Homo sapiens: one gene and its partners. The protein of the gene in region 1 purifies or fractionates together with the protein of each later gene. This does not show direct contact. Each region holds a gene or a part of one and is shown in the gene's direction. Other genes may lie near its edges. The genes, in order: SH2D3A, IMPA2, PM20D1, GUSB, FLG2, SERPINA3 and GJA1.

Region 1 (5,137 bases):
GTACCAATACCAGACCGGTGAGGGATAAGGAAGAAACTTTCTTCCCCTCTTGAGCCTGGAGTCTCTTCCATATTTGCCAGGGCCAGTCGGGGGAGCCCAGTCTGGAAATTCCCTGCTTTGCAACCTACAGGCATCAAAACTTTTCATCCCCAAGCATCGTTGGCCCTCTAGGCCTCAATTTCCTCATCTGTAAAATGGTGGGTGAGTAACTTTCACCGCAAAGCAGCATCGTGGAGAAAGTGGGCATGCGAAGATTGAAAAGGAGGCAGACAGGATAAAGCTCCAGAGCTCCGGGTTTGAATTTCGCCTCTACCACTTACAAGCCAGGTTAACTTGGGCAAATGGTTTAGTTGCCCTGTGCCTCAGTTTCTCCATCTGGAAAATGGAAGTGATGAAAATACTACCTACCACCCTTACAGGGTGGTCTGTTTGAAAATTAAAATAGAGGCCTCATGCCTGTAACCCCAGCACTTTGGGAGGCCGAGGCAGGTGGATCACATGAGGTCAGGAGTTTGAGACCAGTCTGGCCGAGACCCCATCTCTACTAAAAATACAAAAATTAGCCTGTAATCCCAGCTACTCGGGAGTCTACAGCCGGAGAATCGCTTGAACCGGGGAGGTGGAGGTTGCAGTGAGCTGAGACTGCTGCCACTGCACTCCAGTCTGGGCAACGAGAGTGAAACTCCATCTCAAAAAATAAAATAAAATAAAATAAAGGCAAGTTGACAGAACAGCCCTTGTGTACAGTAAGTGCTCAATAAATGTTAGCTGCTGCTACTGCTTTTAAGACTGTGGTTACTGGGGCCAAGCACAGTGGTTCATGCTTGCTTGTAATCTCAGCGCTCTGGGAGGCCAAGGCAGGAAGTTCGCATGAGCCCAGGAGTTCCAGAGCCTGGGCAGCATAGTAAGACGCCACATCTACAAAAAATAAAATAAAATCAGCTGGGTGTGGTGGTGTGCACCTTTAGTCTCAGCTGCTTGGAAGGCTGAAGCGGGAGGATAGCTTAAGCCCAGGAGGTTGAGGCTACAGTGAGCTATGATCACCACTGCACTCCGGCCTGGGCAATATAGCAAGACCCTGTCTCTACAAGACAAGACTGATGTTAATATGAGGAACTCATCAATAAACGTGGCCAAAGAGTCCTCTCTCTTGCACTAGGTCCCTGTCACCTTTTCTCTTGTTCGTCTCCAGGCATCACGATGGAAGTCCCCCCCACCCTTCTTCCCACCTGGGAAACCACCTGAATGATTTGCCTTCCACCTCCACCAAAGTCCCGCCCCGCTCCAGCGTGCTGTCACTGAAGGAAGCTGTCGCGTTTTCCCGGACGTCTCTCCACAAAACCCGCCACCTAAATGGGGCTTCTTTCCGGAAAATCCGGGAGGGCGGTCTGGAGGAAGCGTACCCCTCCTTACGTCACAGCTGCCGCAGCTACCCCAGCCTGGCGTAAGAGCCCGAGGGAGTTGCCCTGCCCTGACCCGGAGCCTTGGCGGGGAGGGGAGAGAGGCACCCCACTCCACCCCGCCCTGGTCCCAAAGGGCCATGGGTGCTTGGGGCCGCCTGGGTGGAAGGGAGGGGCAGGGTTCTAAGGGGCGGGAACGTTGGGATGAAATTTCTTCTATTGCCCTAAGGGGCGGGGCTGAGAAGGAGGTGGCTGCGGGTGGGCGTAGTCATTCGGCGGTGGTCGTGGCTATATACAAGGGGAGGGGCCACTGGCAGGAAAGGATGCGTGGTGCTCCCCTAGTGGGCGGGGTCTATGGAGAAAGCGGTGCGATGCAGAAGGAGGCGTGGCTAGTAGCAAAAAAAATGGTTTTAAGGGGGCGGAGCAAGGGCCTGGGAAGTTAGTTTGAGGCGGGGCCCGCAGGGGGCGGGGTCTGCAGGAGGTGTGGTCAGGTAACTGGGCTGAGTTCCCACTAGGTGTGGTCTGGGAAGGCTGGGGCGGTGGCAAGGTGGAGGGCGGGGGTGACAGCAGCCCGGAGCCGCGGAGCCTCAGCTTCCGCCTGGACCCAGCCTCGTGGGAGCCCCGCGGGTCCTGCCCAGGTGAGTGGAGCCCCAGGGCAGATCCAGAACCAGGATTATTGGGATGGGGAGTCCTCTCTTTCCAGGTGGGGTCACCGGCTCGCAGGGAGGATCTGGGGTAGAAGAGGTCGCCTCGCGAATGAGAGGGTCGCTGTGCGTTACGCGTGTCGGTGTGCTCGGGCTCACCTGGGCGTGCCTCTCTAAGTGTATTTCCTGTGCAGCACAGAAAGCCATTGTTTCCATTTTTGCCTGAGTGATCCTCTTAAACGGCGAATCAGATCGGGCCCCTCCTTCACTTAAAACCCTTGGGTCATAGAGATTAAAATTCAAAGTCCACTAGTTTTTGCCTAGTCTCTCCTCCTGATCTCTCCAACCTCATTGCCCTCCTATCTACTCCTTCCTCATCGTATTCCGGCTACACCAGCCGCCTTGATGATGTAAAATGTAAAAAGCAAGTCCATCTCAGCTCCAGGCCTTTACCCTTACTGTACCCCTCACCCAGGCGACTCCTCCAAATCTTTGCCTAACTGCCTCCTTCTGTACTGAGGTCTCAGTTCCAATGTCACTTTATAGGAGAGGCTGTCCTGTCCAGCCTCCTCTATCACATCTCCCTGGCTTATCACTTTCATTGATAACTCTTAGAAATGGTCTGTCTTCTCCATTCATCTTGTGCTCGTTTGCAGTCTGTCTTGCGCAGCCGACTGCAAGCTCTGGAGGGCAGGGTGGTGCCGAGCTTTAATCTCCTTAGTCACTGTATCTCTAGGTCCTAGAACAGAGCCTGGTGCACAGCAAGTGCTCCAGCAATGGTCGTCCAACGTCAAAAGCGAGTCCTGCCTACATCTGTGTTTGTGTTGCCTGTGCTGGTGGTTCCCACCCTCCACGTCCTCCCCACACGTGGACACATGTTTATGATCCAACTGGAACATGAATAATCCCCTCTCTCCTCTCTCTATGCTTGGTCTGATTCCTGATTCTGCCCGTTTCTTCTCTTCCGTGCCCGAATAAATGATCCCAAAGGACTCAGAGGCAGGAGATGGCTTAGTTGGCCTTTGGCTGACCTATGGCCACCCTGTGTCCTCAAACTAACCAGAACCTTGCCATTGACTCAACTTCACTCTCACTAAGGGAGACACAAGACAGGAACTTGGGGTTGGGAAACTCTGCGACCGAGGCTAGCCCTGGTCCAGGTGACAAACAGGAAGTGCGCAGGCATTGCAAAGACACACCTGGCTTCAGGTATGCGGCACTGGCAGCTGGCTCCCTGCCCAGCGCTCCTCCCCTAAAGCCACCTAGGGCTGGTCTGGGAACTTCCTGCTGACTCAGGAGGCAGGAATTTCTCTGCAGACCCCACCAGAAGACTTTGCAGGGCTGCAGGGAGAGCTTGCAGGAGAGTAAGAAGCAGATTATCTTCTTCTGGACCATCCAGAGAAATCTCCCCCACCAGACACCTGAGACACACTGGCCCTGAGGCCTGTGAGATTATCGGGAAACTACCAAAATGTCTGAGATCCAAATTCAATCATCATGATAACCACATGTATGGGCTCCGAAATAGAAGGATCTGCAAAGGCAACATTGCTGTTTGCTGACATTGCTACAAAATGTGACCTTTTAAAAATCTTAACCCTGGGGTTACATTCTTTTTTTTTTTTTTTTTTTTGAGACGGAGTCTTGCTCTGTCACCCAGGCTGGAGTGCAGTGGTGTGATCTCGGTTCACTGCAGGGTCTGCCTCCTGGATTCAAGCGATTCTCTCTCCTCAGCCTCCTGAGTAGCTGGGACTACAGGCACACGCCACCATGCCTGGCTAATTTTTGTATTTTTAGTAGAGACGGGGTTTCACTGTGTTGACCAGGCTGGTCTCAAACTCCTGACCTCAGATGATCCACCCACCTCTGCCTCCCAAAGTGCTAGGATTACAAGAGTGAGCCACCGCGCCTGGCCCCCAGCGTTGCATTCTAAAGCAAAGAATAGGGGTTAGATCTGCACCTATCCTGAGAACCTCTGAGTGTGCGCATAGGTTGCCGAGAAGCCATGGATGTTTGTAAGTTAAATTCCCCCTGACTGGGATGTTTTTTCACCCAGAGTCACCTGGCACACTCCCCAGAATTCCTTCCAGACTTTACTCAATGAGACCTTTCCTGGTCACATGATCAAAAATGTTCACCCAGCCTGGGCAACGTGGCAAGACCCAATCTCTACATATATATTTAAAAATTAGCCAGGCACAGCCAGACGCAGTGGCTCATGCTGGTAATCCCAGTGCTTTGGGAGGCTGAGGAGGGTGGATCACCTGAGGTCAGGAGTTCGAGACCAGCCTGGCCAACATGGAGAAACCCCATCTCTATTAAAAATATTTTAAAAATTAGCCAGGCATGGTGGCACACACCTGTAGTCCCAGCTACTGAGGAGGCCGATGCACGAGAATTGCTTGAAACCAGCAGGCGGAAGTTGCAATGAACTGAGATCATGCCACTGCACTCCAGCCTGGGCAACAGAGTGAGACTTGATCTCAAAAAAAAAAAAAAAAAAAAAAATTAGCCAGGTACAGTGGCCCACGCTCATAGTCCCAGCTACTCAGAAGGATGAGGTGGGAGAATCACTTGAGCCCAGGAGGTCAAGGCCGCAATGAGCTGTGATTGCACCACTGCAGTCCAGCCTGGGCAATAAAGCAAGACTCTGTCTCAAAAAAAAAAGAGTGTTCACCCTAGCACCTGTACTTTCATTATATCCCATCCATGGTTTAGTTTTTTTGTCTAGCACTCACTCATGTATGCCATCATCTAGTTCTTTTCTGAGGTGCTGCTCCCCAGTAGAATGTCAGCTCCCAAGGACAGAGATTTCCATCTGTTTTGTTCAATGCTATGTCTCTAGGGCCTAGAACAGAGCCTGGGACCCCATAAGGTGCTGAATAAATAGGGGTTCAGTGAATTCATTAATTACATTTCTGCAAGATGGGGTGGCATGTTGTCATCTTCAGCCATTTTTTTTTTCTTCGATTGCATTATATTTGGAACAGGCACGATGGTGACATCTGTAATCCCAACTACTTGGGAGGCTGAGGCTAGAGGATTCCTTGAGCCCAGGAATTCAAGGCTAAAGTGTGCTATGATCACACCTGT
Region 2 (4,424 bases), on another chromosome or scaffold:
TGAGCCCAGGAGTTTGAGATCTGCCTGGCTAGCATAGCAAGACCCTGTCTCTTCAAAAAATAAAAAATGAGCTGGGTGCAGTACCATGTGCCTGTAGTCCTAGCTATTGGGGAGGCTGAGGTGGGAGGATCACTTGAGCCCTGGGGTTAGAGGTTACTGTGAGCTGTGATTGTGACACCACACTTCGGCCTGGGTGACAGAGAGACCCAGTCTGTAAAACAAAACAAAGCAAAACAAAACAAAACAAAAAGGAGAAGAAAGGCCTGGGCTGGACCAGAACTGGTCCCTCTGGAGTTGTCCAGGGACTGATTAGCCACTCTTTATCCCTTCCTGTTTGGGTTTTCCTGGGGTTCTTGGGACCATCCCAGTCCTTGCTCCTATGTATAGCTGTGATGGGTTTAGACCAGTGTGTTGGCAGCTTGCACAGCTGCGGAGCCTGTGTCGGAGCTCAGCCCTGTGGATCCTTGCATGAACTCTGAGACAGCTGATGCTGCTCCAGCCCAGAGCGCAGTGAGAGCTGGCCATGGTTCCTGAAACACAGTTTAGCTCTCCCGGGTTTCTCAGTGGGAACATTTACAATCAGATTCGAGGGCATATCCCATTTCATGGGATAAAGTGAATTAGGGAAAATAAGCTTTTACTTTACACTGAAATCTCCTAAATTTGAATTCATGGGATTATACAGGGCACAGGTGTGTAACATGATCTTGTTTTGGGCCGTTCTTACAGAGGAAGTTTCATGCTCTTTTCAAAACCCCTGTGTTTTTCTTTTACTCGAAGAGAAGTTGTTTCACAGGTGCAACAAAATAATTTTGAAATAATTTCAAGTAATGGAGAAATAATTTTTCTTGTAAAAGAATAATGGTGGAGTCATTAAGGCTCACTAGAAACCCAGAGAGCCTAGGCTGTGATATTAGCTCTGAGGTCAATGATGCAAGAAGTCAGTGACCCACAGAGCCACACCTGCTGCCCCCGCCGCCCCCCCCCCCCCCCCCCACCCAATGGCAGGCTGAATACAGAGGGGACTCGAAGGAGTGGATAATTCCTTTGCCTGGGAGGAGGATGTTTGCATGTTTAACCCAAATCCCGTACTTTTATTTCAGATCATCAGAAAAGCCCTTACTGAGGAAAAACGTGTCTCAACAAAAACATCAGCTGCAGATCTTGTGACAGAAACAGATCACCTTGTGGAAGATTTAATTATTTCTGAGTTGCGAGAGAGGTTTCCTTCACACAGGTAGGTGTACTCCTCTGGGAAACACCCCCAGTAACCCTGGCCACACTCATAGAGAATGCAGGGTCTGCCGGGGTCAGGGGGCTCTGCTGTTTGTTGATGTGGCCAGACGTGAAGCCCTAAGCCACGCAGCCTAACCTGCGATTTGTCAGTTACTTAGTAAGCAAACTCAGCCCTGTTTTCATTCTTTTTACTGTCATCTTAACAACCATCACGTCAATGCATCCTCTTGTGAATATTGAAGCAGCTCTTTTTACAACACATGCTCAGGAAAAGCTCCTTGCACCCCTGTACTCAACCATTTGTTATTTCTGGAAGGACCCACTAGAAGTGTGACCCACCCTAAGAAGCCTGGAGTGGTGATGTCCCCTGGTGGCCTATGCCTGTTCAGCTGCCTGGGCAACTTTCCCAGGAGGATGGGATGCCAAGTGGCACTGGCAGCCGCGTGGGGCCCCCGGCCCACCACTAGTGCTTAGTGATGCACGCCCCCTCGCCCAGGCCAGAGGGCGCAGTGGGAATGGCTGCCACAGCCGGGCCCCAGAGCTGTCCCTGCAAGAGGCCTGTATGAGCACCTCTTAACCTTTTTGGGGTCACCCTTTGAGTATTTGATGCTAGCTATTAATCTTTTGTTCAGAAAAATTAAAATATTTACACAGCATTTTGCATAGCATTTTAAGGGAGCCATGAACCCCAGATTGAGACATCTTCTTTAACTCTGGGGGGCTCTAAGGCCCCTCTCTCACCTCTAGAGTTCTGCAGTATAAATGCTGAAGACCATGCAAGGGATCTTTTTTCTTCGTTACATAGAATCTTTTAAAGATGTTGGATTCTTAAAACTGGAATACCAGTTATTGGATTTCTGGCTGTAGGGTATTATAACTGTCAGGTTCCAGGTTTAGATGGACTTAGGTGGCAGAAATATAGATGGTACTCTCCCTCAGTGTCCATTCAGCACATGGTAGGCTTAAAATACTTTTCTTTACATTTATTTTTATATATTTTTTAAGAGATAGGGTCTTGCTCAGTTGCCCAGGTTGGAGTGCAGTGGCATGATCATAGCTCACTGCAGCCTTGAACTCCTGGGTTCCAGTGATCCTCCTGCTTCAGCCTCCTGAGTAGCTGGGATTACAGGAGCCACTCCACCTGGCTCTTTTTTTTTTTTTTTTTTTTCTGTGAATGATTATATAAATGAAAGAACAAGCGAGTGTTAAACACTTACCTTCTTTTTTTTTCCCGTCGTTTCCTTCTAACTTGTTAGGTTATCTCAAGGTTACCAGCTCTCCCTCTGAATTTCTGTTTGCCAGTCGCTCATGTTTGTTTTGTTGACAACCTTTGAGTTTAAGCTTCTCTAACTTCCTATTTCCCTACTCTGCTTGAGGTCAGGATCCCAAGAATTGGTTACAGTAGTTATAGGGTGTAAAGTGTTTGTGATTTTTTTTTTTTTTTTTTGAGATGGAGTCTTGCTCTGGCGTCCAGGCTGGAGTGCAGTGGCGTGATCTTGGCTCACTGCAAGCTCCACCTCCCGGGTTCACGCCATTCTCCTGCCTCAGCCTCCTGAGTAGCTGGGACTACAGGTGCCCGCCACCACGCCCAGCTAATTTTTTGTATTTTTAGTAGAGACGGAGTTTCACCTTGTTAGTCAGGATGGTCTCGATCTCCTGACCTCATGATCCGCCCGCCTCGGCCTCCCAAAGTGCTGGGATTACAGGTGTGATCCACTACGCCCGGCCCCAGTGTTTGTGATTTTTAAAAAGCCTTTTAAAACCTAATTTTAGGGTGGCTCACACCTGTAATCCCAGCACTTTGGGAGGCTGAGGCGGGCGGATCACGAGTGAGGAGTTCAAGACCAGCCTGAACAACATGGTGAAACCTCGTCCCTACTAAGAATGCAAACATTAGCCGGGTGTGGTGGCGTGGGCCTGTAATTCCAGCTACTCGGGAGGCTGAGGCAGGAGAATTGCTTGAACCTGGGAGGCGGAGGTTGCAGTGAGCCGAGGTCACACCACTGCACTCCAGCCTGTGTGACAGAGCAAGACTCTGTCTCGAAAAATAAATAAATAAACCTAATTTTAATCAAAGGGCAATAGCAAAAGAATTTATCATATGGATTCTTTGAGAGGAAGCATGCTGCAGTAACGAGCCGGCTGTTTCCAGGTCCTTTATTAACCATATTGGCCTAGAGGTTTCTGCGGTGATGATCCGTGTGGCCGTGGCATGGGAGGGCTGGCTCATCTGCGTGGGGTCTGGTAAAGGCTTGGAGGAGATGCAGGATCAGGCACAGTGAAGTTATTGGGGCTGTGATGTGTTTCAGTCAGGTCACTTGGACAAACTGCACTCTGAGATTGCACGCAACCCACTGTTGGGTTAATGTGTGCAGTTGGTTCCATTTGTAAAAGGTAAATTTAGATACTCGCTGTTGTGTACACAAGGTAAAAGTTAATGTATTATGGGGTGAGCACAGGTACCTCCCTCCACCCTTGAGGCCTTAGGGTTGCCAGGGACCGCCAGACTCCAGAGTTCCTTGGGAAAACCATGATGCAGAGCAGGGGATTATAGGTAGGGTGAGACAGGCTTACCTGGGAGCGTGCCCGGGCTGAACACCAGCCTCCATCTCTGAAAAGGCCCCCTGGTAGGGTCAGACCCACACACCTGTCCAGGAATCAGTGATTGAAATCTGGGGTTCCCAAGCTCTAGCCCACAAGTCAGTGGACTGTGGCTGCACCACGGACAGCCCCAGTCTGTGTGTCACCCCCATCTTCCCTAGCTCTGAGGGTGAATGTGTGGACACGGTGAAAGCAGCTGTTCTCTTCTCTGCTCAGTGTGCCTCAAAAATTGACATCAAATGCAGTTGTTTTTCAACATATTTATGTGAAGTGAGTTTTTTTTGCCAATGACTAAGATTAAAAAGAAAGTAAATTTTGGGGATTTAATTGTATTTTAGATCATAGAAAAGTTGATAAATTTGTGATGAGAGAAAATTGTATACATATTGTAAAATAGGACATTGTGATTTTTTTCTGCTTTCTAAGTATTTAAATATATCCCTTAAACAATATATTTAATTTGAAGTTGCCTCTCATCCTCCTTTAGGAAAGACTTTTATTCTGAGCTTTTCTCTTTCCTTGATTTTAGTCTTTCATGAAATGATATTAAAAATAGACTTAATAACATTTTTTTAAAAACCTGATAC
Region 3 (3,728 bases), on another chromosome or scaffold:
CTGGTCTACTTCCTGACTGCAGCCAGGAATTTTTCTGGATTCACTCTAGTCGTTTCAGACAGAATTTTCTAGGAGTTTCCTTAGGTTCTTTCCCAAGGAAACGAAGCAAAGAGAGAAAACTTGAATACAAGTATCATAACTTCTGACTTTTTGTCTGTGTTGAGCTCATCTTCCTGGCTCCAGTGCAGCTGGTTACAAACAGGAAGCAGAAATGCCCAGAGAGGGGGAAAAAAGTGTGTGACCCTTTTATTACCTGTCTGAGGTTCTCCGAGGCTGAAGCCAGGTCATCACATCTATTCCCCAGCCTCGAGATGATTGACATTCTGCTGTGTCTTCGACACTTTCATCCAGCCTGTGGCTCACCACCCAAGGGGAAAGATACATAACTTCCTGATTTTCCAATTCCCATCCAACTTTCCATCGAAGGGATATCTCACCAATGCCCTTGGAAGGAGATTCCATGTTCCTGGCTGAAATGGTGCTTTTCGTAAGAATAGCTATAGGCTTTCAAGAGAGCCCAGGCATTGCTCTGTAGTGACCCAGTAGTCAATTTTCCAGCCAGGCCATCCCCTTGCCACTTCGTTGGTTTGATTGCTCATGTAAATTTGTTCCAATTCAAGATCTGATTCATGACTGTAAGACAAGTCTCCCAAAACATTTAACCTAAATCTATCATGCTGTAGGTTGCTTTCCAGGAAGACCCAGCTCTTACATCACCTATAGCCAGTCAGCTGAAATTGAAGTCCCAGTGCTTAAAAAAAATAAGTCCTGTCTGTAAACCCTGAGGCTCTGCCTTGCTGGAAAGAAATCAGGATATTTAAGCCCATATTGTACATGTATAGAAATCAATAAGAAATCGAACCCCCTTTGTTTCTACCCTGGAGGTCCTAGAACTCACGAAGAACATTGTGGCTGATAACAGAGTCCAGTTCCATGTGTTGAGTGCCTTTGACCCCCTCCCCGTCAGCCCTTCTGATGACAAGGCCTTGGGCTACCAGCTGCTCCGCCAGACCGTACAGTCCGTCTTCCCGGAAGTCAATATTACTGCCCCAGGTAATGACTTCATCAGCTGTGGCTGGAGGGAGGAGGGGGCTGGAACTGTTTCCTATCCAATGTCTACTTCCCCACCCCCACCCTAGATGTTCAGCCTGTAAACAGCTGGCTGCTTCCCCTCCTGATGAGACTAGAACTGTATTTTCCCTTCAGAGTGGAAGTGAGAACGCAAACAGGAAAGGAACAGAAATAATAAATTAGGTCAGTCAAGCCTGGGTCCTTGCTTAACCTAGGCCAGCCACTCTGGCATAGAGGGGAGAATTGGCTTAGACTACTCCCTCCTCTCTAGGAGCCACAGAAGGGGCCAAGATCTTCCCAGAGTCTGGTTCTGATCCATTCTAGGATAACAGCTCAGCAGGAGAGCTCAGAATCCTCAGCTCAGAAAAGCCTCCCAGCCCATACCATTTGCCTTAACCTAATTTACGTTTCCCAGCCCAGACCAATCCCAGCAGCACCCCTCTGTTCCCCTTCTGCAGCCTTCTAGCACCCCATCCAAATCTGTGCTTTGCAGACAGTGGTTCTCCAATCTAAGAGTGGAATAGGTCTCCCCAGTGAACTATTAAAATGCAGATTACCTGGACCCACTACAAAGATTTGGGTTAACCAAATCTGGAAGGGACCCTGGAATTTGCCTTTTTCACAAATACCCCCAGGAGATTCTGACACAAGGTGATGACTAACTATAGTTTGAGAATCTCTGGTCAATGGTTATTGCTCTAATATTAAGACATTGCTCAGCCGGGCACGGTGGCTCACACCTGTAATCCCAGCACTTTGGGAGGCAGAGGCGGGTGGATCATGAGGTCAGGAGTTCAAGACCAGCCTGACCAATATGGTGAAACCTCGTCTCTACTAAAAATACAAAAATTAGCTGGGCGTGGTAGCTCACGCCTGTAGTCCCAGCTACTCGGGAGGATGAGGCAGGAGAATCGCTTGAACCCAGGAGGCAGAGGTTGCAGTAAGCCGAGACAGCCCCACTGCAGTCCAGCCTGGGTGACAGAGCAAGACTCTGTCAAAAAAAAAAAAAAAAAGGAGAGAGACGTTGCTCAATAATAATGATATTGCTCAATTATTAATGCTCTAATATTAAGGCCTGTGTCTAGTTTTCTTTTCTCTTGGTTTAATCAGAGATTCCTCCAAACATCCAGGAACCCGGCCCTCACAATCCCAGATTCTCCTCTCTTGGCCCTCAAAGGCTACCTACTCTATTCTCTTTCTTCTGGAGCACTTACTGTAATCCACCAATGGGGCCAGGCTTTTGCAGAAAAAAGATAGGCAGCAATCAACCACAAAGCAAGGAACTTGAAGGGCCTGGATGTCCATTTGAAACCAGGAGTGGAAGATGGAACAAAACACAAATTACCATCTCAAATCACCGCACACACTTGAATTGATCCTCCAGGGTGTCTTTTCCCAAAGAACACACCTATGGGCACAAGTCCCAGCCTCTGCTAGGTGACCTGCTACCACCTTCAGGAGAGTGGGAAACTGGAAAGAGAGTATCCTGGCACTTTCCAGACCTAAGGTTTGACTCTAGGAAGACTTCAGAGGATGAGAATAACAGGAAATTTTGTTCCAATTCAAGACGGTGATATTTTATAGTAGTAAAGTTCTCCCAGAGGGTATTTATTTCTGACCTAGAGTGATACAGAATAAAGGTCAGGTGATAAAGAAGTGCTATCTAGATTCTGGTTTCTTAAATAGCAAATGGCCATGGCCTTGGGTATGAAATGAAGATACTGGCCACCCTGGGCGTCATGGGGAACAGCAAACAGCCATGGCCTTGGGTATGAAATGAAGATACTGGCCACCCTGGGCGTCATGGGGAACAGCAAACGGCCATGGCCTTGGGTATGAAATGAAGATACTGGCCACCCTGGGCGTCATGGGGAATAGCAAATGGCCATGGCCTTGGGTATGAAATGAAGATATTGGCCTCCCTGGTCGTCATGGGGAGAGGACACTTCCAAGGGCATTGGTGAGACATCCCTTGAATGGTCCATCCAAGGGATGTCTCACCAATGCCCTTGGAAGGAGATTCCATGTTCCTGGCTGAAATGGTGCTTTTTGTAAGGATAGCTATACGCTTTCAGGAGAGCCCAGGCATTGCTCTGTAGTGATCCAGTAGTCCTGATTTTCCAGCCAGGCCACACCCCAGCCACTTCGCTGGTTTGATTGCTCATGTAAAGCCCCTTTCCTGTTGATCTTCCCTCTCTAGTTACTTCTATTGGCAACACAGACAGCCGATTCTTTACAAACCTCACCACTGGCATCTACAGGTTCTACCCCATCTACATACAGCCTGAAGACTTCAAACGGTGAGTGGAACAGGTTTGAGCAGCAGGTGGGAGAAAAGAAATACACTTGATGTGTCCTTTTCCTACCCCATGCTCCTGGCAGTCCACAGAATCAGGGGGAAAGCCAGGATTTGGCAAAATGAAATGGAGACATTGTAGAACCTAACCCATCTACTGTCCTTATTGCCAGAGTCTCATTGTCACCCCCTAGAATTTATGGAAATTGGCCCCTCTTTTACAAAGATGGAGATAATTGGGTGATTGGGGAGAACCTGGTGGAATCGGTACCCTTGGGTGCTAATCCCAGCTCTTCCTCTCTTTGGGAGAGGGCTTATCCTCTGGACCCCGTTTTCTCCACTTACAAAATGGGGAGACTCC
Region 4 (4,013 bases), on another chromosome or scaffold:
AAAATCACCCGTGTGGTTGACCTCGCTAGGAGAAGAGGGGTCTGGCCTAACGTCACACAGCTCGGGGTGGCAATCCTGTCCCTTCTCTATGGTGCTACTCTCACTCCATCTCCCCTTGCTACACATCGTGCTCAAGGAACAGGCAGCTTCGGTGGGGGGGGCGCCGGGCATGGTGGCTTATGCCTGTCATCCAGCACTTTGCAAGGAGGCCCTGGTATAAGGATCACTTGAGGCCAGTAGTTCAAGAGCAGCCTGGGCAACATAGTGAGGCCATCACCACAAAAAATTAAAAAATTAGCCAGGGATGGTGATGTGTGCCGGTAGTCCCAGCTGCTGAGGCAGGAGAATCACTTGAGCCTGGGATGTCAAGGGTGCAGTGAGCTATGACCACACCACTGCACTCTGGTCTGGGCAACAGACGCAGACCCTGTCTTTCTTTTTTTCTTCTTTTTTTTTTTTGAGCTGGAGTCTCGCTCTGTCGCCAGGCTGGAGTGCGATGGCGTGATCTTGGCTCACTGCAACCTCTGCCTCCCGGGTTCAAGCGATTCTCCTGCCTCAGCCTCCCGAGTAACTGGGATTATAGGCACCCGCCACCACGCCCGGCTAATTTTTCTATTTTTTTTTAGTAGAGACAGGGTTTCACTCTATTGGCCTGACTGGTCTTGAACTCCTAACCTCAGGTGATCCACCCTCCTCGGCCTGCCAAAATGCAAGGGTTACAGGCGTGAGCCACTGTGCCCAGCTGGGATACCCTGTTTTTTTTGTTTTTGTTTTTTGTTTTTGAGATGGAGTCTTGCTCTGTTGTCCAGGCTGGAGTGCTGTGGCGTGTTCTTGGCTCACTGCAACCTCCGCCTCCCGGGTTCAAACAATTCTCTTGCCTCAGCCTCCTGAGCAGCTGGGATTACAGGCGTGTGCCACCACGTCCAGCTAATTTTTGTATTTTTAGTAGAGATGGGGTTTCACCATGTTGGCCAGGCTGGTTCAACTCCTGACTTCGGGATCCACCCGCCTCAGTCTCCCAAAATGCTGGGATTACAGGAATGAGCCACAGCGCTCGGTCTGTATTTAAGAAAAATTTTTGTTTTAAGTTTTTTTTCTTTTTAAAAATATATCTTTTTCAGGGCGGGCGCGGTGGCTCATGCCTGTAATCCCAGCACTTTGGGAGGCCAAGGTGGGGGGATCACGAGGTCAGGAGATCGCGACCATCCTGACTAACATGGTGAAACTCCGTCTCTACTAAAAATGCAAAAAATTAGCCGGGCATGGTGGCAGGGGCCTGTAGTCCCAGCGACTCGGGAGGCTGAGGCAGGAGAATGGCGTGAACCTGGGAGGCAGAGCTTGCAGTGAGCTGAGATTGCATCACTGCACTCCAGCCTAGGGGACAGAGCGAGACTCCATGTCAAAAAATAAAAATAAAAAAATATATATATATCTTTTTCTTTTTCTGAGATGAGGCTTGCACTGTGGCCCAGGCTGGAGTGCAGTGGTGAGATTATTGACAGCCGTTGTGGGGCCGCGGTTCTAAGTTTAAAAGAATTTAGGCTGGGTGTGGTGGCTAATGCCTGTCATCCCAGCACTTTGGGAGTCCAAGGTGGATGGATCGCTTTAGCTGCAAAGTTTGAGACCAGCCTGGGCAACATACTGAGACCCTATCTAAGAAAAAAATAAATAAATAAAATAAAATAAATGAATAAAAAAGAATTTAAAAAAGAATCCCACAGCAAAGACAATGCACCATAGAGCAATTTATTGCCAAGGAAAGGTATTTTGGAAGTTAAGTTTAGAACAGCCTGGGTGCACTGGCTCATGCCTGTAATCCCAGCACTTTTGGAGGCCGAGATGGGTGGATCACTTGAGCTCAGAAGTTCAAACCAGCTTAGCCAACATTAGCTGGACATTGTGGTGTGAGCCTGCAATCCCGGCTACTCAGGAGGTTGAGATGGGAGAATTGTTTGAACCCGGGAGGTGGAGGTTGCAGTCAGCTGAGATTGCAACACTGCACTCCAGCCTAGGTGACAGAGTGACACCCCCATCTCAAAAAAAATAGTGAAGTGCAAAATGCACAGTTCACCCTGAGACACAGAATTCAGGACAGGCTGCTCGTAAGGATGAGACAGCACCGATTATTACTGGGGAAACTCCCTTTCTGGGAGTCTTCCGTGATGAATTCCTAAGGAGCTGGGAAGAGGTGTTACTGTAAGCACGTTCTGGGCCGTCCTCTGGTTGCACATGCGTAGTAGCTGTACATGCTTGTTCACACGTCACGTGTCTCAGTGCCGTGGTTGGCATGTCTGAGGGACACGGTCACTTCCTTGACTACCTATCCTGCCTCAAGATCATAGCTCACTGCAGCCCCGAACTCCTGGCTCAAGCAATCCTCCCACTTCAGCCTCCCAAGTAGCTGGGGCTGCCGGGGCTGCAAGCACGCACCACCACGACCGGCTGATTGTTTGTATTTTTAGGGAAGAAGTGGTTTCCCTATGTTACCCAGGCTGGTCTTGAACTCCTGGTCTCAAGCGATCCTCCCACCCCAGCCTCCTCAAGTGTTGGGATTACAGGTGTGACCACTGCACCTGGCCAAAATCTTTTTTTAAATTAAAAAAAGCACCGGGTGCGGTGGCTCACACCTGTAATCCCAGCACTTTGGGAGGCCAAGGCGGGTGGATCACCTGAGGTCAGGGGTTCAAGACCAGCCTGGCCAATATGACAAAACCCATCTCTACTAAAAATATAAAAATTCGCCAAGCATGGTGGTGCACGTCTATAATCCCAGGTACTTGGGAGGCTGAGACAGGAGAATCACCTGAACCCCAGAGGTGGAGGTTGCAGTGAGCCGAGATCATGCCACTGCACTCCAGCCTGGGGGACAGAGTGAGACTCCGTCTCAAAAAAAAAAAATAAGAAATTAAATTTAAAAAAAGCAACAGAAACAAATGGCTGCCTGGCAGCGGTGGCTGCAGGGCGCTCCTGTTTGTGTGACTCAGGTCGTGTCCCTCCCTCAGCCCTGGTCTCTCTTGTTTCTTGCAGGGCTGGTGAATTACCAGATCTCTGTCAAGGGCAGTAACCTGTTCAAGTTGGAAGTGCGTCTTTTGGATGCAGAAAACAAAGTCGTGGCGAATGGGACTGGGACCCAGGGCCAACTTAAGGTGCCAGGTGTCAGCCTCTGGTGGCCGTACCTGATGCACGAACGCCCTGCCTATCTGTATTCATTGGAGGTAATGGTGGTTTGGGACATGCCTAAGGGAGGTCTTTTGCCCCCATGTGGTGACCCTGGCTTCAGCAGGAGCCCAAGACAGGTGGATGGGCAGGCATGGTCCTCTGAGCTTTCTGATGTTTCTCACCCTTGGTGGGAGGCCCATTTTCTTTTTTTTTTTTTTTTTTGAGATGGTCTCACTCTGTCACCCAGGCTGGAGTGCAATGGCCTGATCACAGCTCACTGCAGCCTTGAACTCTCAGCCTGCAGCAGTCCTCCTGCCTTGGCCTCCTGAGTAGCTGGGACTACAGGCACATGCCACCATGTCTGGCTAAATAAAAAAAATTTTGTAGCCTGGGCAGAGTGACTCATGCCTGTAATCTCAGCATTTTGGGAGGCTGAGGTGGGTGGATCACTTGAGGCCAAGAGTTCAAGACCAGCCTGGCCAACATGGTGAAACCCCATCTCTACTAAAAATATGAAAATTTGCTGGGCATGGTGGCGAACACCTGTAATTCCAGCCACTCGGGAGGCTGAGGCAGGAGAATTGCTTGAACTCAGGAGGCAGAGGCTGCAGTGAGCTGAGATCACACCACTGCACTCCAGCCTGGGGGACAGACTGAGACTGTCTCAGAAGAAAAACATTTTTTTTTTATAGAGATGGGGTCTCAGTCTGTCAGCAGGCTGGTCTTCAACTCCTGGACTCAAGTGATCCTCCTGCCTTAGCCTCCCAAAGTGTGGGAACTCCAGGCATGAGCCACCTTGTCTTGTCAAAGGGAAGGCCATGTTTTGAAGGGCAGGTTCCCAGGGTCAGCCAGGG
Region 5 (4,424 bases), on another chromosome or scaffold:
AGAGGAGCATGGATATAGTTCTGGGCACTCAAGGGGAACTGTGAAATGTAGACATGGGTCCAACTCCAGGAGGCTAGGAAGACAAGGTAATTTATCCAGCTCTGGGAACCAAGAGGGATCTCAGAAAAGATACCACAGGTCCAGCTGTGGTCATTCATGGAGTGGTGGCAAAGACAGACATGGTTCCAGCTCTGTAGAACTGAGAGAAAGAATAAACAAGTCACACATTAGCCCTTCTAGGGAATCTGGGGAGGAGTATGAATCTGGATCTGGATCAAACAGTTGGGAAAGGAAAGGTCATGGTGGTCTGTCATGTGGATTGGAGACTAGTGGGCATGAATCAAACTCTACTCAGTCAAGAATTAGAGAACAAAAGCTTGGGTCTAGCTGTTCAGGTTCAGGAGACAGTGGGAGGCGAAGTCATGCATGTGGTTATAGCAATTCAAGTGGGTGTGGAAGGCCACAAAATGCTTCAAGTTCTTGTCAGTCACATAGATTTGGAGGGCAAGGAAATCAATTTAGCTATATTCAGTCAGGCTGTCAGTCAGGAATTAAGGGAGGACAAGGCCATGGCTGTGTCTCAGGAGGTCAGCCCTCTGGATGTGGTCAACCTGAGTCTAACCCCTGTAGTCAGTCCTATAGTCAGAGAGGATATGGAGCTAGAGAAAATGGTCAACCACAGAACTGTGGAGGACAATGGAGAACAGGCTCAAGTCAGTCCTCTTGCTGTGGACAATATGGGTCTGGAGGTAGCCAGTCTTGTAGTAATGGTCAACATGAATATGGTTCCTGTGGCCGCTTTTCAAACTCTTCTAGTTCAAATGAATTTTCCAAATGTGATCAATATGGGTCTGGTTCAAGTCAGTCTACTAGCTTTGAACAACATGGAACAGGCTTGAGTCAGTCCTCTGGGTTCGAACAACATGTATGTGGCTCAGGTCAAACTTGTGGCCAGCATGAGTCTACATCAAGTCAATCCTTGGGCTATGACCAGCATGGGTCTAGCTCAGGTAAGACATCTGGCTTTGGACAACATGGGTCTGGCTCAGGTCAGTCCTCTGGCTTTGGACAATGTGGGTCAGGCTCAGGTCAGTCCTCTGGCTTTGGACAGCATGGGTCTGTCTCAGGACAATCCTCTGGTTTTGGACAGCATGGGTCTGTCTCAGGACAATCCTCTGGTTTTGGACAACATGAGTCTAGATCACGTCAGTCTAGCTATGGCCAACATGGTTCTGGCTCAAGTCAATCATCTGGCTATGGCCAATATGGGTCTAGAGAGACATCTGGCTTTGGACAACATGGGTTGGGCTCAGGTCAATCCACTGGCTTTGGCCAATATGGATCGGGCTCAGGTCAGTCCTCTGGCTTTGGACAACATGGGTCTGGCTCAGGACAATCCTCTGGCTTTGGACAACATGAGTCTAGATCAGGTCAGTCTAGTTATGGCCAACACAGTTCTGGCTCAAGTCAGTCATCTGGCTATGGCCAACATGGGTCTAGACAGACATCTGGCTTTGGACAACATGGGTCAGGCTCAAGTCAATCCACTGGCTTTGGCCAATATGGATCAGGCTCAGGTCAGTCCTCTGGCTTTGGACAACATGTTTCTGGCTCAGGACAATCCTCTGGTTTTGGACAACATGAGTCTAGATCAGGTCATTCTAGCTATGGCCAACATGGTTTTGGCTCAAGTCAATCATCTGGCTATGGTCAACATGGGTCAAGTTCAGGACAGACATCTGGATTTGGACAACACGAGTTAAGCTCAGGTCAGTCTTCCAGCTTTGGCCAACATGGATCAGGCTCAGGTCAGTCCTCTGGCTTTGGACAACATGGGTCTGGCTCAGGACAATCCTCTGGCTTTGGACAACATGAGTCTAGATCAGGTCAGTCTAGCTATGGCCAACACAGTTCTGGCTCAAGTCAGTCATCTGGCTATGGCCAACATGGGTCTAGACAGACATCTGGCTTTGGACAACATGGGTCAGGCTCAAGTCAATCCACTGGCTTTGGCCAATATGGATCAGGCTCAGGTCAGTCCGCTGGCTTTGGACAACATGGGTCTGGCTCAGGACAATCCTCTGGCTTTGGACAGCATGAGTCTAGATCACATCAGTCCAGCTATGGCCAACATGGTTCTGGCTCAAGTCAATCATCTGGCTATGGTCAACATGGGTCAAGTTCGGGACAGACATCTGGCTTTGGACAACACAGGTCAAGCTCAGGTCAATACTCTGGCTTTGGACAACATGGATCAGGCTCAGGTCAGTCCAGTGGCTTTGGACAACATGGGACTGGCTCAGGACAATACTCTGGTTTTGGACAACATGAGTCTAGATCACATCAGTCTAGCTATGGCCAACATGGTTCTGGCTCAAGTCAGTCATCTGGCTATGGTCAACATGGGTCAAGTTCAGGACAGACTTTTGGATTTGGACAACACAGGTCAGGCTCAGGTCAATCCTCTGGCTTTGGCCAACATGGATCAGGCTCAGGTCAGTCCTCTGGCTTTGGACAACATGAGTCAGGCTCAGGAAAATCCTCTGGCTTTGGACAGCATGAGTCTAGATCAAGTCAGTCTAATTATGGCCAACATGGTTCTGGCTCAAGTCAGTCATCTGGCTATGGTCAACATGGGTCTAGTTCAGGACAGACAACTGGCTTTGGACAACACAGGTCAAGCTCAGGCCAATACTCAGGCTTTGGACAACATGGATCAGGCTCAGATCAGTCCTCTGGCTTTGGACAACATGGGACTGGTTCAGGACAATCCTCTGGTTTTGGACAATATGAGTCTAGATCACGTCAGTCTAGCTATGGCCAACATGGTTCTGGCTCAAGTCAATCATCTGGCTATGGTCAACATGGGTCAAATTCAGGACAGACATCTGGATTTGGACAACACAGGCCAGGCTCAGGTCAGTCCTCTGGCTTTGGCCAATATGGATCGGGCTCAGGTCAGTCTTCTGGCTTTGGACAACATGGGTCAGGCACAGGTAAATCCTCTGGCTTTGCACAGCATGAGTACAGATCAGGTCAGTCTAGCTATGGCCAACATGGTACTGGCTCCAGTCAATCATCTGGCTGTGGCCAACATGAGTCTGGCTCAGGTCCAACCACAAGTTTTGGACAGCATGTGTCTGGCTCAGACAATTTCTCTAGTTCTGGACAACATATATCTGACTCAGGTCAGTCCACTGGATTTGGCCAATATGGTTCAGGCTCAGGTCAATCAACTGGCTTGGGCCAGGGTGAATCTCAACAAGTAGAGTCAGGATCCACAGTTCATGGGAGACAGGAAACTACTCATGGTCAGACAATAAATACCACTAGACATAGCCAGTCTGGTCAAGGACAATCCACACAGACAGGGTCCAGGGTAACTAGAAGACGAAGATCTAGCCAAAGTGAGAACAGTGACAGTGAAGTGCACTCAAAGGTCTCACACAGACATTCAGAACACATTCACACACAAGCTGGATCTCACTACCCAAAGTCAGGATCCACAGTTCGCAGAAGACAAGGAACTACTCATGGACAGAGAGGAGATACCACTAGACATGGCCATTCTGGTCATGGACAGTCTACACAGACAGGTTCCAGAACATCTGGAAGACAGAGATTTAGCCACAGTGATGCCACTGACAGTGAAGTGCACTCAGGGGTCTCACATAGACCACACTCACAAGAACAAACTCACAGCCAAGCTGGATCTCAACATGGAGAGTCAGAATCCACAGTTCATGAGAGACATGAAACTACTTATGGACAGACAGGAGAGGCCACTGGACATGGCCACTCTGGTCATGGACAGTCCACACAGAGAGGGTCCAGGACAACTGGAAGAAGGGGATCTGGCCATAGTGAGTCCAGTGACAGTGAAGTGCACTCAGGGGGCTCACACAGACCACAATCACAAGAACAAACTCATGGCCAAGCCGGATCTCAACATGGAGAGTCAGGATCCACAGTTCATGGGAGACACGGAACTACTCATGGACAGACAGGAGATACCACTAGACATGCCCACTATCATCATGGAAAATCCACACAGAGAGGGTCCAGTACAACTGGAAGAAGGGGATCTGGCCACAGTGAGTCCAGTGACAGTGAAGTGCACTCAGGGGGCTCGCACACACATTCAGGACACACTCACGGCCAAAGTGGATCTCAACATGGAGAGTCAGAATCCATAATTCATGACAGACACAGAATTACTCATGGACAGACAGGAGATACCACTAGACATTCCTACTCTGGTCATGAACAAACCACACAGACAGGGTCCAGGACAACTGGAAGACAGAGAACTAGCCACAGTGAGTCCACTGACAGTGAAGTGCACTCAGGGGGCTCACACAGACCACACTCACGAGAACACACTTACGGCCAAGCCGGATCTCAACATGAAGAGCCAGAATTCA
Region 6 (3,500 bases), on another chromosome or scaffold:
TCATGCCTCTTTCCCCCACTTTCCCTAAACCTTCTTTCTCTCTTGCACTCCTTATTCCCTGGTTCCTATTGATTTCTCATTTAGCACAAGGAACTAGGTCTTTCTTTTGTGGCCCTTTTCCCAATCCAAGCCTGCTGGGCTCTCCCTCACCCCCAATAACTTTTACTCTTGCCAAGCTACTTCTCTAAACCAAAGCAGGGTCCCTCCTATGAGGGACTCTGGGCACTTCCACTGCTGCGGAAGCAGGGTCGAGCAGGGCGACCCTTGCACTCACACCTTCTCCAACTGCTTGCTCCACCTTCAGCCAAATGGGAGATGCCCTTTGACCCCCAAGATACTCATCAGTCAAGGTTCTACTTGAGCAAGAAAAAGTGGGTAATGGTGCCCATGATGAGTTTGCATCACCTGACTATACCTTACTTCCGGGACGAGGAGCTGTCCTGCACCGTGGTGGAGCTGAAGTACACAGGCAATGCCAGCGCACTCTTCATCCTCCCTGATCAAGACAAGATGGAGGAAGTGGAAGCCATGCTGCTCCCAGAGACCCTGAAGCGGTGGAGAGACTCTCTGGAGTTCAGGTGATTCTTCCTGGCCCCCAAAGACCCCACATCTCTCCACGTCAAGGTCTCACCAATGTCCAGGGACAAGGGCATGGTGGTGGGAGAACTCATACAGGGACAGGTGGAATTTACACTTACTTTGCCCTATGCTGCCTACATGGCTTTGGGCTTGATTTTTCTTTTTCTTCTTTAAGACAATGACATCAGACAGGACAAGGGGCTGAGGCTTCCTCTGACTCCAGCATGTTCTAAGTCATGAGAAATCTTCTGCACAGTCCCAAACACTCATGCATGGTTTCTCCTGGTCTCAATCTCTTGAAGGGAGAGAGAAACAGAAGGAATTGTGATCAGTTGAGGGCTGCAGTGAGATGGACTCTGAGAATCAGTTCTGCACTGGTGAACCACTGTATTTATTCATTCTCTCAGCATTTGCTGCATGATTAATTGAGCACCTACTATGTGTCAGACACTAATTTGCACCCTGAGAGTAAATCAGCAAATAAAACACAAGATTCCCTGCCCTCCTGGAGCTTAATTTGTAATTGGAGAGGGGACAGGCAATAAATAAATATAACAAATAAGTTACGTGATATATTAGAAGGTGAGAAATTGAGTAAGGGGATAGAAATTGAGTAGAGGAGGATGAAAGGATCAGGAAAACTGGAACTCGTGTTAGTTTGTGATTTTAGATAGAGTAGCCATTAGGTGATGTTTGAGCATCCATATAACAGAGGGGAGGGGTGGAGTCATGTTGGTATATTAGGGAAAAGCATTCCTGGCAGAGGGAACAGTCAGTGCAAGGCCTCTGAGGTGGAAGTGAGCTTGATGTGGTCAAAGAAGAGTCAGGCCAGAGCAGCTGGGCTTCCACTTCCTCCATCTTGTCTTGATCAGGGAGGATGAAGAGTGCGCTGGCATTGCCTGTGTACTTCAGCTCCACCACGGTGCAGGAGCAGAGAGAGTGAGGAGAGAGTTGAGAGAGGTCAGGAGTCCCCAAAGGGGTGGAGCAGCTTAGGTAGGGCCACGTAGACCCCTAGAAAACCTTGCCCTTCCTCCTGTGTGTGAAATGGAGAGCCATCAGGAGGTTTGGAGGAGTGCTGCGATCCGAGTGTTGTTTTAAAAGACTAATCCTGGCTGCTGAGAGGAGAATAACTGTAGAGCAGGTATGGAGTCAGTGACACCCGCAGGAACCAGGCACAGACATGAGGTGGGAGCCCACTGTGGCTGGGATCCAGGAGGGAGCCATGCATGTGAGAAGTCATTGAGTTCTGGATAAATCTGAGGGTAGAGGAACTTGCTGGGACACACGGAATTGAGCTGACCGATTTCATGGGGACACAGTGAGGAGGAGCAGTAGTTCCGGGCCCAGACCCTGCAGTGGGCCCAGGGAGTGCATGTGGGCAGCTGTGTGGGGTAGAGAGGAAGGAGCACCAGCCTTGGGTTCAGACCGTGGTGGCTGGTGTGACCTGGAGCAGGTCGCTGCTCTTCTCTGGAGCTCAGCTACCTCCTGAAGAGAAAGGAATGTCCTTTCCCCACCACCCCTGTTTTCACTGGGTGATTGTGAGAATCCGGTGAGGTATTGTATGTTGAAGCCATAATAAACCACTAAGGGCAAGGGAGCTGCTTCAACACTAACCTGAGGCTGCAACCCCTGCCCCAACCACTGTCCAGAAGGCCGGACACCTCTCGGGATTGCCTGACCCTCAGCCCCTCCTCACTCTAGATCCCAGGAGACCCCAGAACGTGGGGGTCCTACCCAACCCATCCGTTTACTCCCAGACTCCTTCCTCCTTTAGCACCTAATAGCCACCAGGGAGCAGGGGCTCAGCAGATAATTTTGAGTGGAAAGAATTCTCCAAACACTTTTGATTTACAAAATGCTGAGGAAACATGTGTCCACACACTCCTGGCCCACAGAGAATGCTCAATAGATACTTGTTGAATGAAGGATGGAATGAACGGACAAACACATGAATGAATGAATAAAAATAGAAATAGGACACCTTCCTCCTTCAGGGGACTCAGAGTTTAATGGAAGACACAGCCTCCTGTATAATTGTAAGACCAGGCAGACAGTGACAGGCATCTTAAGAGGGCTATAAACTAAGGGAGGGGGAGTTTGCAGGTGGCAGGTGTGACCTGGGCCTCTAGGAGCTTGCTACCTGCTCTATGCCAGCCCACACCTGGCTTGAGGGACAGTGCCCACTGGTGAGGCAAGATGGGAACCTCCAATTGATTGTTTCAGGATCCCCAAAGCTCTTCTAACACAATCAGACTCTTCAGAGGCCCCCAGGCCCTTTTTGACCTGCCTCTGGCTCCTGGCCCACCTCATCCCTCACTACCCTCCTCCCTGAAACACTGAGATCACCCACCGCCCCGTGGAGCAACTCCTCCTGCTCCCACCTTCTTCCAGGTTCTTCCACCTGCCTCCTGCCCACCTCTTCACCTAGCTAGCTCCTTTCCTGCCTTTGGGACTCAGCCTCAACACCACCTCCTACAGGAAGCCCTCCTGGTGCCCCCGTGAAGCAGGCTGCCATGCAGCCACTGCAGCTGGCCCAGCCCAGGCTCTCAACACACTCAGGGGTCCCTGCTGGTGTGAAGGTGCTTCAACTGCATTGCAAGCTGCAGGGAAAGGGCAGGGCCAGGCTCGAGCAGGGCCACAACTCCAGGCTTGGTGTGCTGCCTGGAGACTTTCACACTTGCAGATCTGAATGAATAATTAATGAATAAGAAGAGTAAAGACAGGGGTTAAGAAATTGAGGAACAGATTATTTATTTTCCAATCAGAAGGGGGTGACTGTAGAGGAAACCAGGGAAGACCATGCTGCGAGGTGGGAGGCAGGTAGGTACTGATCAGCAGAGGTTCAGATACTTTTTTTTTCTCGTTTTCTAGAGAGATAGGTGAGCTCTACCTGCCAAAGTTTTCCATCTCGAGGGACTATA
Region 7 (2,291 bases), on another chromosome or scaffold:
TTTTTAATAAGGCTGTGAGTAGTATTGAGACAAAATGAACTTTTTACATGAAGTGTGATGTGTATTTAGTCTTTGTTTTTCAAAGTAGGTTACTACATATAATGACACATTGTAGCAAAAGAGTATATTTCCATACAGCCTACTTTTTCTCTGGACAGAAGGCTGACTTCTGAGCTACATAAGTCACTGCTTAAGAAAAAAATAGTCACCATTGCTTGGGAGGCTAAGGCAGGAGGATTTCTTGAGCCCAGGGGCCTGGGCAACATAGTGAAATCCTATCTCTAAAAAAAGAAACAGAAAAGTGTAAATGACAATAATATAGGGTATGCACAAATTACACTTGATATACCATTGAAAAATCTTCCAGAGGCCAGGCGTGGTGGCTCACACCTGTAATCCCAGCACTTTGGGAGGCTGAGGTAGATGGATCACCTGAGGTCAGGAGTTCGAGACCAGCCTGAGCAACATGGAGAAACCTCATCTCTACTAAAAATACAAAATTAGCCAGGCGTGATGGCACATGCCTGTAATCCCAGCTACTTAGGAGGCTGAGGCAGGAGAATCGCTGGAACCTAAGAGGCGGAAGTTGTGGTGAGCTGAGATTGTGCCATTGCACTCCAGCCTGGGCAACAAGAGGGAAACACCATCTTAAAAAAAAAATCTTTCAGAGTGAAATTAGTAATAAAATGATATATAATAGCATTAAGGTTTTGGAAAGAAGGTTATGGATGTGTGTTTATAGGTATTCTTACCTGGATTCTTGATACCTATGCTTTGAATAACACACATCAGGATTTTGCTTAGCAAACACAGATCTACCAGGCAAAAACTGTCCTCATTTATCAGACAAATAAAAGGAGCAGAGGCTTAGCACAGGTGGCTTCTCAAGTCACACAGCAAGGCAGTGGTTGAGCAAGCAATACACCTTCCCAGGTTAAAGACTGCAACTCATCATCTGTTGCTTCTAAGACTTACTTTGTCTCAACAAACAAAACAAAACACTTGTTAGATCTTTTCTTCGTTGGCAAAAATGGGACAGGAAGAGTTTGCACTTGGTTTTTTGTGAAAGAATGTTAGAAATACGTGAAACCGTTGGTAGTATTTTGACTATCACCTGAAAGGTACTAAATGTTAAACTAGTAATTTGCAATCTGTGATCCTTGAATTGTCTCTTTGTTTCTTTCAGGTGGTGCCCAGGCAACATGGGTGACTGGAGCGCCTTAGGCAAACTCCTTGACAAGGTTCAAGCCTACTCAACTGCTGGAGGGAAGGTGTGGCTGTCAGTACTTTTCATTTTCCGAATCCTGCTGCTGGGGACAGCGGTTGAGTCAGCCTGGGGAGATGAGCAGTCTGCCTTTCGTTGTAACACTCAGCAACCTGGTTGTGAAAATGTCTGCTATGACAAGTCTTTCCCAATCTCTCATGTGCGCTTCTGGGTCCTGCAGATCATATTTGTGTCTGTACCCACACTCTTGTACCTGGCTCATGTGTTCTATGTGATGCGAAAGGAAGAGAAACTGAACAAGAAAGAGGAAGAACTCAAGGTTGCCCAAACTGATGGTGTCAATGTGGACATGCACTTGAAGCAGATTGAGATAAAGAAGTTCAAGTACGGTATTGAAGAGCATGGTAAGGTGAAAATGCGAGGGGGGTTGCTGCGAACCTACATCATCAGTATCCTCTTCAAGTCTATCTTTGAGGTGGCCTTCTTGCTGATCCAGTGGTACATCTATGGATTCAGCTTGAGTGCTGTTTACACTTGCAAAAGAGATCCCTGCCCACATCAGGTGGACTGTTTCCTCTCTCGCCCCACGGAGAAAACCATCTTCATCATCTTCATGCTGGTGGTGTCCTTGGTGTCCCTGGCCTTGAATATCATTGAACTCTTCTATGTTTTCTTCAAGGGCGTTAAGGATCGGGTTAAGGGAAAGAGCGACCCTTACCATGCGACCAGTGGTGCGCTGAGCCCTGCCAAAGACTGTGGGTCTCAAAAATATGCTTATTTCAATGGCTGCTCCTCACCAACCGCTCCCCTCTCGCCTATGTCTCCTCCTGGGTACAAGCTGGTTACTGGCGACAGAAACAATTCTTCTTGCCGCAATTACAACAAGCAAGCAAGTGAGCAAAACTGGGCTAATTACAGTGCAGAACAAAATCGAATGGGGCAGGCGGGAAGCACCATCTCTAACTCCCATGCACAGCCTTTTGATTTCCCCGATGATAACCAGAATTCTAAAAAACTAGCTGCTGGACATGAATTACAGCCACTAGCCATTGTGGACCAGCGACCT

What was found.
Region 2: the proteins of SH2D3A (region 1) and IMPA2 purify together in Homo sapiens (affinity purification with mass spectrometry; one large-scale study listed by BioGRID and IntAct). This does not show direct contact.
Region 3: the proteins of SH2D3A (region 1) and PM20D1 purify together in Homo sapiens (affinity purification with mass spectrometry; one large-scale study listed by BioGRID and IntAct). This does not show direct contact.
Region 4: the proteins of SH2D3A (region 1) and GUSB purify together in Homo sapiens (affinity purification with mass spectrometry; one large-scale study listed by BioGRID and IntAct). This does not show direct contact.
Region 5: the proteins of SH2D3A (region 1) and FLG2 purify together in Homo sapiens (affinity purification with mass spectrometry; one large-scale study listed by BioGRID and IntAct). This does not show direct contact.
Region 6: the proteins of SH2D3A (region 1) and SERPINA3 purify together in Homo sapiens (affinity purification with mass spectrometry; one large-scale study listed by BioGRID and IntAct). This does not show direct contact.
Region 7: the proteins of SH2D3A (region 1) and GJA1 purify together in Homo sapiens (affinity purification with mass spectrometry; one large-scale study listed by BioGRID and IntAct). This does not show direct contact.

Annotation. Positions count from the first base shown.
Region 1 is NC_000019.10:6,764,288-6,769,424, reverse strand, and holds the start of SH2D3A (SH2 domain-containing protein 3A), read left to right. Parts: upstream 1-1,989; 5' UTR 1,990-2,038; intron 2,039-5,137.
Region 2 is NC_000018.10:11,997,951-12,002,374, forward strand, and holds part of IMPA2 (inositol monophosphatase 2), read left to right. Parts: intron 1-1,103; coding exon 1,104-1,237; intron 1,238-4,424. UniProt on the Homo sapiens protein: Phosphatase that can use myo-inositol monophosphates, myo-inositol 1,4-diphosphate, scyllo-inositol-1,4-diphosphate, glucose-1-phosphate, beta-glycerophosphate and 2'-AMP as substrates in vitro.
Region 3 is NC_000001.11:205,829,923-205,833,650, reverse strand, and holds part of PM20D1 (N-fatty-acyl-amino acid synthase/hydrolase PM20D1 precursor), read left to right. Parts: intron 1-884; coding exon 885-1,053; intron 1,054-3,271; coding exon 3,272-3,371; intron 3,372-3,728. UniProt on the Homo sapiens protein: Secreted enzyme that regulates the endogenous N-fatty acyl amino acid (NAAs) tissue and circulating levels by functioning as a bidirectional NAA synthase/hydrolase.
Region 4 is NC_000007.14:65,975,217-65,979,229, reverse strand, and holds part of GUSB (beta-glucuronidase isoform 1 precursor), read left to right. Parts: intron 1-3,027; coding exon 3,028-3,215; intron 3,216-4,013. UniProt on the Homo sapiens protein: Plays an important role in the degradation of dermatan and keratan sulfates.
Region 5 is NC_000001.11:152,352,952-152,357,375, reverse strand, and holds part of FLG2 (filaggrin-2), read left to right. Parts: coding exon 1-4,424. UniProt on the Homo sapiens protein: Essential for normal cell-cell adhesion in the cornified cell layers. Important for proper integrity and mechanical strength of the stratum corneum of the epidermis.
Region 6 is NC_000014.9:94,618,891-94,622,390, forward strand, and holds part of SERPINA3 (alpha-1-antichymotrypsin precursor), read left to right. Parts: intron 1-304; coding exon 305-578; intron 579-3,450; coding exon 3,451-3,500. UniProt on the Homo sapiens protein: Although its physiological function is unclear, it can inhibit neutrophil cathepsin G and mast cell chymase, both of which can convert angiotensin-1 to the active angiotensin-2.
Region 7 is NC_000006.12:121,445,646-121,447,936, forward strand, and holds part of GJA1 (gap junction alpha-1 protein), read left to right. Parts: intron 1-1,186; 5' UTR 1,187-1,202; coding exon 1,203-2,291. UniProt on the Homo sapiens protein: Gap junction protein that acts as a regulator of bladder capacity. A gap junction consists of a cluster of closely packed pairs of transmembrane channels, the connexons, through which materials of low MW diffuse from one cell to a neighboring cell.